2 separate regions of the Homo sapiens genome follow, and region 1 is linked to region 2. Evidence: fine-mapped expression QTL. A gene starts in region 2. The other region holds a variant in brackets. All regions are shown on one strand. Distances are between the middles of the regions.

Region 1 (5,372 bases), 430 kb after region 2:
GGTGGCATGATCTTGGCTTACGGCAATCTCCGCCTCCTGGGTTCAAGTGATTCTCCTGCCTCACCTTCCCAAGTACCTGGGATTACAGGTGTGCACCACCACACCCAGCTAATTTTTGTATTAGCTGGCCATGGCCAGCTGGCCGTGTTGGCCAGGGTGGTCTCGAACTCCTGATCTCAAGTGATCCACCCGTCTCAGCCTCTCAAAGTGCTCGGATTACAGGCGTGAGCCACTGCACCCGGCCTGCTTGCTTTTAAATAATCCAATCTGACATTCTTTGTCTGAATGAAGCATTTAGTCTACCATATATTTGATTTGATTTCTATATTTTATTGTTTCCTCTTTATCTGACCTTTTCTATGTTTTTCACTTCTTCCTTGCCTTTTAAAAATTGTTTTTTCTGCTATAAATTATTCCTAATATTTATATTATTTTAGTAGTTACTCTGAAAATACTAATACACATACCTATCAAAATCTAAAGTTAATTGAATAGCTTTACCTTTCTCTTCAACAGTATAAAGATCATAAAATACTTTAACCACTCTTTTGATTTGGATGTTGTTATCATATATTTAGTTCTTTTTTTTTTTTTTGAGACGGAGTTTTGCTCTTGTTGCCCAGGCTGGAGTGCAATGGCGTGATTTCGGCTCACTGCAACCTCTGCCTCCCAGGTTCAAGCAATTCTCCTACCTCAGCCTCCTGAGTAGCTGGGATTACAGGCATGCGCCACCACACCCGGCTAATTTTTTTTTTTTTTTTTTGTATTTTTAGTAGAGACGAGGTTTCTCCATGTTGGTCAGGCTGATCTCCAACTCATAACCTCAGGTGATCCGCCCACCTCAGCCTCCCAAAGTGCTGGGATTACAGGCGTGAGCCACCACACCTGGCCTATTTAGTTCTATTTTTAAAACCTCCGCATACATCATTTTATAAAGCCAATATTTATTTCAATATATCCACAGATTTACCATTATTCTTTACTCTTCAATCCTTCTTAAATCTCAGACTTTACATCAGTGGTCACTTTTTTTTTTTTTTTTTAGCCTTCAGGAAATTGATCTGAATTTCCACTAGTAGGGAAGGTTTGATGGTTACAACATTGAGTGTTTGTCTGTTTTAAAGTGTCTAATTTTGCCCCCATTCTTCACAAGATATACAATTCTTGGTTGACAATTATTTTCTCTAAGCATATGGAAAATATTACTCCCTGTCTTATGGCTTTCATTATTATAGACAGGAAAACAGCTGACAGCCAAATACTTGTTGAAGGTAATATCTTTTTTCTCTGACAGCTTTTTTTTTTTTTTGAGATGGAGTTTTGCTCTTGTTGCCCAGGCTGGCATGCAATGGCACGATCTCGGCTCACTGCAACCTCCACCTCCCAGGTTCAAGCAATTCTCCTGCCTCAGCCTCCTGAGTAGCTGGGATTACAGGCATGCACCACCACGCCCGGCTAATTTTGTATTTTCAGTAGAGACAGGGTTTCTCCACGTTGAGGCTGGTCTTGAACTCCTGACCTCAGGTGATCCACCCTCCTCGGGCTCCCAAAGTGCTGGGATTACAGGCGTGAGCCACCATGCCCAGCCTCTGACAGCTTTTAAGACCTCTCTATGGTATCATGTAGTTTCTTTAAAAAATGTTTATGTGTGAATTTTTTTTCTTTTTATCCTTTCTGGGATTCTTTAGCTTCCTAAATTTGTAGGTTGTTTTTCATCAGTTCTCTGTCATTATCTCTTCAAATACTGCCTCTGCCTCATTCTTTTCCATGCCCCTGCTCCCCTGCCCCAGAATTCTGACTAGACTGAACCTTCTTATTCTACCCTCTGTATTCTCTTAACTCTTTTATTACTTTTCATTTTCTTGCCTCTATACTGCAATTTTTTCAGATCCACTTTACTAAATCTTTCTTTAGCTGTGTCTAATCTGTTATTAAATTTGTACACTGGTCATTTTTGTATACTTGCTCCTCATTCCTATTTTAAATTTCTTTTTTTCTATAAGCATATTAAATATATGTACTTATAATCTGTGTCTGCTAACTCCAATATGTGAACTCTTTGCAGGTTCTGATTCTGCTCTTTATTGTTTCTGCTTCCTCTCATTCATTGCATCTTATTTCTTTCTGCATTTTGTGAATGTGAGTTCATATTTCTTACAGCTTTATGTTTAGGAATTTTCTAAATCCTAAGATCAAGATGGGTTCTCCCAAGAAGCTTTGTATTTGCTGCTTTTTAGGCATTCTTAGGCATTTTAAGGCATCGTCACTCTTGTACCACTTTTATATTTAATTACTGGCTTAAGATTTTCATACCATCCAGGTAATATAAAATCAGGATTCAAACCTGCATGAAGGTCAGCTTGTGGGTAAAACTTCTCAGGGAATTTCTGTACCCTTCCCATCACCACCAAAGTTTGAGGCAGGAAATTTTTCTTTCCGATCCTTAGACAAGGTACGTTTATTACTAGTTCTCATTTATTATGATGTATAGACCCTTGGGGTACCATCTTTACCAGGAGAGGTGGGACGTTCTACCAGAAAACTACTTTTATCTTCCGTTCTCTGAGCTTCTTGAGGCACAAGCACAAGTTAACTAGGTTTTCCAAGTAATGTCATTTGCAAATAATGTCCTCAAGGCAGCAGTACTTGGCTTATATCTCTGGGTTTTCACCTTCACATAGTTTTTGGCCTGATTATTCCTTACTTTTCAGCCAGCTATCTCCATGCACATAAGGTTTTTACTTAAAAAATATTTCATCTGCCAGGCACAGTCACTCACACCTGTAATCCCAGCACTTCGAGAGGCCCAGGTGGAAAAACTGCTTGAGCCCAGGAGTTCGAGACCAGTCTGTGCAACAAGGCAAGACCCCATCTGCACAAAAAATAAAAAAATTTGCTGGACATGGTGGTGTGCACCTGTGGCCCCAGCTACTCGGGAGGTTGAGGTGGGAGGATCGCTTGAGCCCAACAGGTCGAGGTTGCAGTCAGCCATGTTCACACTACTGCACTCCGGCCTGTGTGACGGAGCAAGACCCTGTCCTCCCTCCAAAAAAAAATTATCTAGAATTTTAAATTGTTTAT[C/T]TGGGAAGGTCAGTCAGAGTACCTAATTCACCATACTGCAGCAAAATAGCCATGCTTTCTTAAAAGTTTGAAAATTGGATATAGATGAAGGTATTAATGGGAAGAAGACGATAACCTTGAAACCTATCAGTAACAAGGTTGAGCACATATTTGGAAAGAAATCTGGAAAAAATATCTTCAACAATTTATAAGGAACTAAATTGGAGAGCTCAAAACACTAAGTGAATGCTTCTCAACTTTAACATACATCAGAATCACCTGGAGAATTTATTGAAAGAGAATGCTAAGCCCTACCCCAGGGTTTCTAAATTAGTCAGCCTGAAGTGGGAACTGAAAATTTGCTTTTCTAACAAGTTCTCAGATAATGCTAATTTGCTGGTCTGCAGAACCCACTATCAGAATCACTGTACTAAGAGAAATAAACTTCATAAAAACAGGAACACTGACAGGTTCATTTCATTACCTTCTACAAAAGAAGAGAAGAAATGTGTGGAAATGAGATTTCAATAACACTCTTGGTCCATCTCATCATTTAACTTATAATTAAGTTAATTTGATGACTGATAAGTAGATTTACTGAAAGGCTATGTATACAAAACAGTTATCAGACTCAATATCTGCAGGTGAAGAAAAAGGACTGGAGTGCAGCAGCTGTTTAAAGCTAGATCTATAATACTAATGATTTAAATAATAGAATAAACAACATTATTTAGAGTATTCAATACCTTGGCAGAGAATATCAAAATTCAAACTACAGACATTGTCAGAAGTGATAATTTACTAAGATGTTCAGAAGCAAATGTCTTGTTCAACCATTCAAGAATCATAATATCCCCACACCAGGCTCTATTCTCAGCAATGGGAACTGTCTGCTATGGTTCACAAAATTATATCAATATTATTCTCTAGGAGAAAAATAGGATAATTAAATTTAAAAATTTGACACAGAGGTTCATTGGAAGACTCAGAATTAGTGATAATTGGTAGTTTCATTGCTTGTCAAAGCAACTACAAAAATATTTGTCAGCACATAACACTAAAAACACTTCACAATTTTTTTTAAAAACCCACCAATGCAGCCCTTAAAGTTTTTATTATGTGGTGATTTTAAAAAGAAATGAATCTTGCATTTCAAAAATGACTTCTTACCTGAAATTAATAATTTTCCCATTTCCTCCTCCACCAAAGATCTATACAGCTAGTGCAAATCCATCAGCACTTTAACATTTCTTTCTGAATTTAGCAAAAGACCAAAATACCCTGCATTACTCATAAACAGCTGATGCTAATTGATTTGGTTTCAAATCTATAGAGCACAAGTTGTGAGAAATTAACACTTTCAGCTTAAAGTCAAAGAAAAGGAGATCAGGTTAATAAAGTTATTGAGCTGAATTTTATTGAAGTGCTCTCTGTGTCTACTCTTATAAAATACAAGAGGAAAAATGTAGGTCAAAAATCCATAGCGGAAGGTTAAAAGTGTCTTTAAAACAAACAAACAAAAAACTGTCTCGTTCTGTTGCCCAGGCTGGAGTGCAGTGGCACGATCTCAACTCACTGCAACCTCCACCTCTTGGGTTCAAGCTGATTCTCATGCCTCAGCCTCCCAAGTAGCTGGAATTACAGGCGTGTGCCACCATGCCCGCTAATTTTTGGTAGAGACAGGGTTTTGCCATGTTGTCCAGGCTGGCCTTGAACTCCTGGCTTCAAGTGATCCACCCGCCTCAGCCTCCCAAAGTGCTAGGATTACACGTGTGAGCCACCATGCCAGGCCAAAGTGTCTTTTTTTTTTTTTTTAAAGGAGTGGGGATTAAGTTGTTCCCAGAATTCGTACGGAAAAGAGCCAAGAAATGCCAAATTAAGAAAGGTAATGAAAGTACGCCCTATGAAATAACAAGAATAATTTTAAAGCTACAGCAATTAAAACAGTGTTATTGATGCAAATATGGACAAAAAGAATTATGAAACGGAATAGAGTCGACACTTAGACCCACACGTATATGGGAACTGGATATAATACAGAGATAGCATTGCAAATCAGTAAAGGAAAAAAATGGACTCAATAAATGATATTGAGACAACTGGTTATACATATGGAAAAGATAAAATTAGTTCATAATTCACACCAAACACAAAAATAAATTCCTGATCAATCACCAAAATGTGCAAGGCAAAATTTTAAAACTTTTATAAGAAAATGACTTCAGGGTGGAGAAAGATTTCCTGAAAAACACATAAAAGCACAAATCACCAAGGTAAAAAAAAAAAAAGGGTAATTATAACTATAAAATTTA
Region 2 (5,348 bases):
TCCAGGCTGCCTGGAGGAGGCATTCAGGTACACATGACCCCTCAGGGAATGATGTTCTTGCCCACAGCACCCAGGATGCTGGCTGGGCATATCTCAGCCAACACACACTCCCACCGACAGCCTCGGATCTTTTGCTCCCACCTCACAGGGTTGGCACCTGTGGAGTCTTGAGGCCCAGTAATGACCCCAAGAAGCCATCAAGTCCAGGCCCTGTCGCCCCACCATACTGCATCCACAGTGGTGTCTGAGTGGCCAGGGAAGGTAGCCCTCCCCAGCTCTCAGCACCACTGTCATGGGGCTCTGGAACTCCCGAGCCCTTGGGCAGGACTCCAGCAGGCAGCTCTGATCAGAAAGCCACCTGGGAGCCCTGTGGGTGGGACAGGACTCCAGGTAGGACCTAGCAGGCCTCCATCCAAGAGGGAGGTATGTGGAAAGCTCTCCACTGCCAGAGCCTTGGTCCTGAGGCTCTGCATTCATGGCAATGGTAACCCTCTTTCCAGGTGAATCAGAAACAGGGCACCCCAGAATCAGCCCAGCCATGAGGAGCATCTCTAGGGATCCCCATCTCTGCAGCCCCCACCAGGTTCACCACTCCTGGTCAGGTTCACGATTTTTCTTCGCCTTGCAGCTCCTTGGTGCTCTCCGCCTCCCCCCTGCCCCTTTCTTCCTCACACCGGTGGCTCAGCCTCCCCCCGACAGTTTTCTTGGTTTCTGTCTCAGCGTCTCTCTCATCTCTGAGCCCCTCTCTCTCTCTCCTCCTCTCGGATTCTCCTTTTCCTCCCCTTCCTTCCTCTCTTTCAACCTCCCCTCCCACCCCCTCCAGTCCAGCAATGGGCTGGGAACGCAGCAGGAGCCATGACAAGCCCAGGCGGCTCTCCCGACCCTTGGTGCCCCCGAGGCCATTTCCCCGCGCTCCCTGTGCCGGCAGCAGCCGCGTGCGGAGAGGGCTCGCCGACCAGAAGGGGCAGCAGGTTGGAGCTGTGGGTACGGGGGGCTCAGATCAAAGGCCAGGAATGTCTGGCCCCCTGGCGTAAGACTTCCTTCAGCCATGGCCCTCACCTCGTGGAACGCCCGCCGTTCCAGGCCTCTGTGGGACTCGGGTCGGCTCATTCTCTGCCCTTTCTGCCACAGTTCCCTACACAGCGGTCCCTGCTCCCCACCGGCAGTGCTTCCTTCACCCCAGACCGGGGCTGCGCAGAGTCCTGGTGCCTCAGGTGGCCTGGGAGGGGGCCTAGGGAAAGGCACCCAGGTGACCGGGCGTGAGTCCCCAAAACCTGACCATGATGTCAATACCACCCAGGGCTGAGACCTAATTCCTCGCTCTGGAGAGGGAGAGGAGAGGAAGCAAGCCCGAAGGGGGCCTGGAAGGACTCCTTTCCTGTGGGGAGGGGTGGGTAACTGGAGGCATTTGGTGTCCGCACAGGGCAAGGGCCTTTATCGCCAAACCCCAGGCTGGAGCTCCCTATCAGTAGAACCGGGGCCTCAGGCGGGACGGTCGGGCAGTGAGGGGCGCTCCGGAGGGCAGCAAGGTCTTCCAAGGACCTGGGCCGCCCTCGGCCAGAGCTGCGCGTTTCACCGGTCCCTGATGGTCCAACCGAGAATCCCACTGAGGCTGTGGGTCACGCCTCCGACCCGGGCCAGAGGTCGGGCCTGAACCCCTCAAGGAGGAGAAAGTGACCCGACTCCGAGAGCAGGAAATGCGACTGGCCGCTGGTGTCAGTTGCAGGAAATGCAAAGGCAGCAGGAGGTCCCGATACCGATCTGATCCCTGACAAAAGACTCAAATGACACTCGGCTCCGTCCCCCGGCGCCGCCCGCAGCCAGACCTTCGAGCCTCCGCGGACTTTTCCGCACGTTCCTCGGACACCCGGGAAGTGACCTCCCGCGGCCAGGACGAGAGGCCAGAGAGCGGGCGGACTCGGGAGGCTGGAAGCTGGGAGGGGGTGCGTTCCCCCACCCTCTGATCCTGACCTGCCCGAGCGGGGCTTCTGGAAACATCCCTGTGCTTTCTACCCTCGATTCCTCGCGGGCCCACGTCCCAACGGGTCACGGTCCCCGCCAGCAAAGGAGCCACCCGTTCATGCCCACGCCAAGCCCTCGCCATGTGAACGCCCGGGTCAAAGCCCCCGCGCCCTAACCCTGGCCAGCGGGGGACCGCGGCGGTAGCAGAGGGTCCGGCCCACCGCGTCCCCCCGAAGCCCCGCGGCGTCCGGGGCGCGGGCTTTGCCCAAGTTTGCTGGGCGATGCCCTTCCCGGAGCCCGAGTTGTGGGCCGGGCGGGAGGGGCGCGTGATTGACAGGCTGAACTACAGACTCATCTCTTACCTTAGGCCGCGGGCGCTGATTGGCTGCTCGCTGACATCCTCAAACCCGGCTGCTCCGCGCTGGGCTCGGGAGGGGGGCGGCTGCGGGTGGAGGTGCGCTTCTGACAAGCCCGAAAGTCATTTCCAATCTCAAGTGGACTTTGTTCCAACTATTGGGGGCGTCGCTCCCCCTCTTCATGGTCGCGGGCAAACTTCCTCCTCGGCGCCTCTTCTAATGGAGCCCCACCTGCTCGGGCTGCTCCTCGGCCTCCTGCTCGGTGGCACCAGGGTCCTCGCTGGCTACCCAATTTGGTGGTAAGACTCGCCTCTTGTCTGCCCGCGGCCCGGTTTCTCCGCCGCGTCCGGGGAAGGTGGGGGCGCCGGCTGGGGGTGGGCCGCTGCAGGGCTGGGGCTCCTCTCCTCGCCTCCCTCCAGCCCCCCACCCGCCCACCCCTCCTGGATTTTCTGCTGGTGTCGCCTTCAGAATCCAACTCCTGGCTCCTCTGATAATCACCATTTTCCCTGCTCCCCGCTGCAGGGGCTGGAGGACTTTTCCCATCTCAGAAGGTTTCTTATTCTTAGATCCTAACCCTCTGCCCGTCCCAATCTAGAGGCCCCCGAAGACCCCCCATTTGCTTGCAGTTGGGTTTCTGGAAATCCAGCACTGTCCCTGGGGCCCAGCCACTCCTCTTCTCCATTTTGGGGTCTTCATGGGCAAAACCATCCTGTTCCTTCACTGCCACCCCACCTCTGCCGGCGCCTCCATCAAGAGATTCCCCATAATAACCCCCCTTTGCCTTCCTATTTCAGACCCCAAAGGCTTCAGGGCTCCTCCCGGGGCAGGGGAGTGGGTGGGGGGATTTCATCAGATTCTCCCCACCGCTCTAGATTCATCTTGAGCCTCTGAAGTGAATATGGTATTTGCTGATCCGGGATGCCATTGAATTCGGATTTTATTCATTTCTTGCTTGTCCACCCTGGCAAAAGGGGGGTTCCTTGAAAATGTGTTGTCTGGGAGGGGTAGGCTTGTTGTTCTTTGACCAAAAATCCAATTCTCCATGTCACATTTCTTCCTTTTGGAAAACCGAGGACCGAGGAGAAAGGGAGAGGGAAGGGAGAATTCCGTCCCTGAGAAATGTGGATACAAAAGACATTTTAGTAAATAAGACTGGGAAGCCGGGAGCAGTGCTTGGGGGGGGCTGTGCGTGTCTGGGGGGCCTGGGTGAGGAATAAACATCGCTTTGGGAGCCCCAGCTCCAGGAGTCCCCTTGTTTTCCGAGCGGCCCCATCGCCGCTCTCCCACCCTCCGCAGGTCCCAGGGGCCAGAGGGGAAGACACTGAAACCAGTTCTCTAAATTACACTCCGCCTCTCCCCAGTCTCCAGCCCCCTACATTCCGGAAAACTTTAATTAAAGAATCTTCCCCTCCTGGACATAGGAGAGCCTTGGCCTGGGCGGGGGGAGGTGAGGAGGAAGAATTTGGGATCTGTGAGTGAGAAGTGGGCTGTGGCCCCCGGGGTGAAAGTCAGAAAGAAGTGCCACCACGGTGCGGTACCGCCTGCAGGTCCCCAGACTCCCTGCCTTTCGCCAACCCAGAGTCCAGGGTAGGAGGAGCAGAGACAGCGAGACTTGGGGGCCACACCCCGAGTCTTCCAGTTGTTTGGGGATGGCAGCATTTGTGTCTGGGTGTTTGGGGCTCCTGGGAGAGAGGGTGGGGACATGGCCAAGGGTCTCTGTTTAGAGGGTGCTAGGAGTTGCTCCCAGGACAGCCAGCCAAGGGGAAGTCTTTCTTCTGCCCAACCCACACTTTTCCGGGGGGCTGGGCTAACCTGAGGCTTCCAGCACATAAAGAAGTCCATGGGGTGGCCAGGGCAGCCAGGGACTTCAGGAAGGAGGTTCGGCCAGTCTGGGGAAAGGCTGCTGCCAACACCAGTCCAGCCTCACCCGGCCATTCCTGACCCTCTTCCCATTCCCGGGCCAAGGCCATGCCGTTTTTCGCCTTGCTTTCGCAGAGACTCTGGTGGGTTGGGGGAGGGTAGGAAGGAAAGGTTTGGCGGCCCATAGGTGGCAGGGACTGAGGAAGAGAGACCAGTCTCTCCGGCCCTATGAACTAGAAGAGGGCACTCTTCCAGTTGGTGTAGATTCTGGTGTGAAATGGTATCTTGGGGACCATCTAGATAGGGATTGCCCAATAGGAAGAAACGCTGGGGAAACCTGGAAGGTCAAGACATTGGCCCTAACATAATGCTAGACACATGGCTTGTTTGGGAATTTGGTGGGGGACAGGAATGCTGCTTTGTCTAAGCCAAGGAGAGAGGTGTGTGTGTGTGTGTGTGTGTGTGTGTGTGTGTGTGTGTGCGTGTGTTCTGGGTCTATGACCCTAAGAGGTGTTTTCTATACACCAGTGTGTCTCTGTGTGCAAAAGTGTTTGTGCCTGCAACTGGGCTACTATGGATGTGAAATCGTGTGGGCGTGTTGGGGGATCCATGCCCACGACAGGTTGTGCTGTGTGTGTCTGCACACGAGTGTGAGCAAGTGGCTGGTGCTGTGATGTGTGTATGTACATGTGTAAGAGACAGAGAGAAGTCTAGAAGTATCTTTGCCCATGTAAAGGTCAGAGCCTGTGTCTGCCTGTGACGCTGGGCTTGACTGTGTTCATGACTGGGCATGTGAGTGTGTGTGTGCGTGCGTGCGTGTGTGTGAGTGTGTGTGTGTGTGTGTACGTGCGCGCGCATGCCTTCATGACAGTGTGGGGAAAGCCCCACAGATGTCTTTGTGCATGAATATCAGTGCTCATGGCCATGACCTGATTGTGCTTGTAAGGAGGAGAGTGAGCCTCAAGTCCATAGCTGTGTGAGGGCTGTGTCTGAGTCCGCCTGTGATCCTGTCCCCAGGTGCTGGGCCCAGGGCTGTGTGGCTGTGAATATCTTTGCAGACATCTACCTGTGGGTATGAATGACACCTGAGCTTGGGTGTTTGGTGGGCAGCCATGGGCCTGGAGGGAAGGTCCAACAGGAAGCAAAAGTCTCACAAGGTGGCTGCAGGGG

What was found. PIP is the estimated chance that this variant, and not a neighbour inherited with it, causes the effect.
Region 1: its variant is fine-mapped to the expression of WNT3 in ileum (GTEx, PIP 0.92).

What each region holds. Positions count from the first base shown.
Region 1 is chr17:46,383,786-46,389,157 of GRCh38, reverse strand. It overlaps a transcript of LRRC37A2 not described here and the pseudogene NSFP1. Among named protein-coding and RNA genes, the nearest start is that of ARL17B, 25 kb to the right of the region's middle. The variant C/T (reference allele first, on the strand shown) is at 3,082.
Region 2 is chr17:46,815,787-46,821,134 of GRCh38, reverse strand. WNT3 (Wnt family member 3) reads left to right here and starts at 2,443. Exons shown (of 5, transcript NM_030753.5): 1 at 2,443-2,617. The coding sequence starts at 2,538. It also overlaps a transcript of LRRC37A2 not described here. RefSeq lists an enhancer at 801-1,388.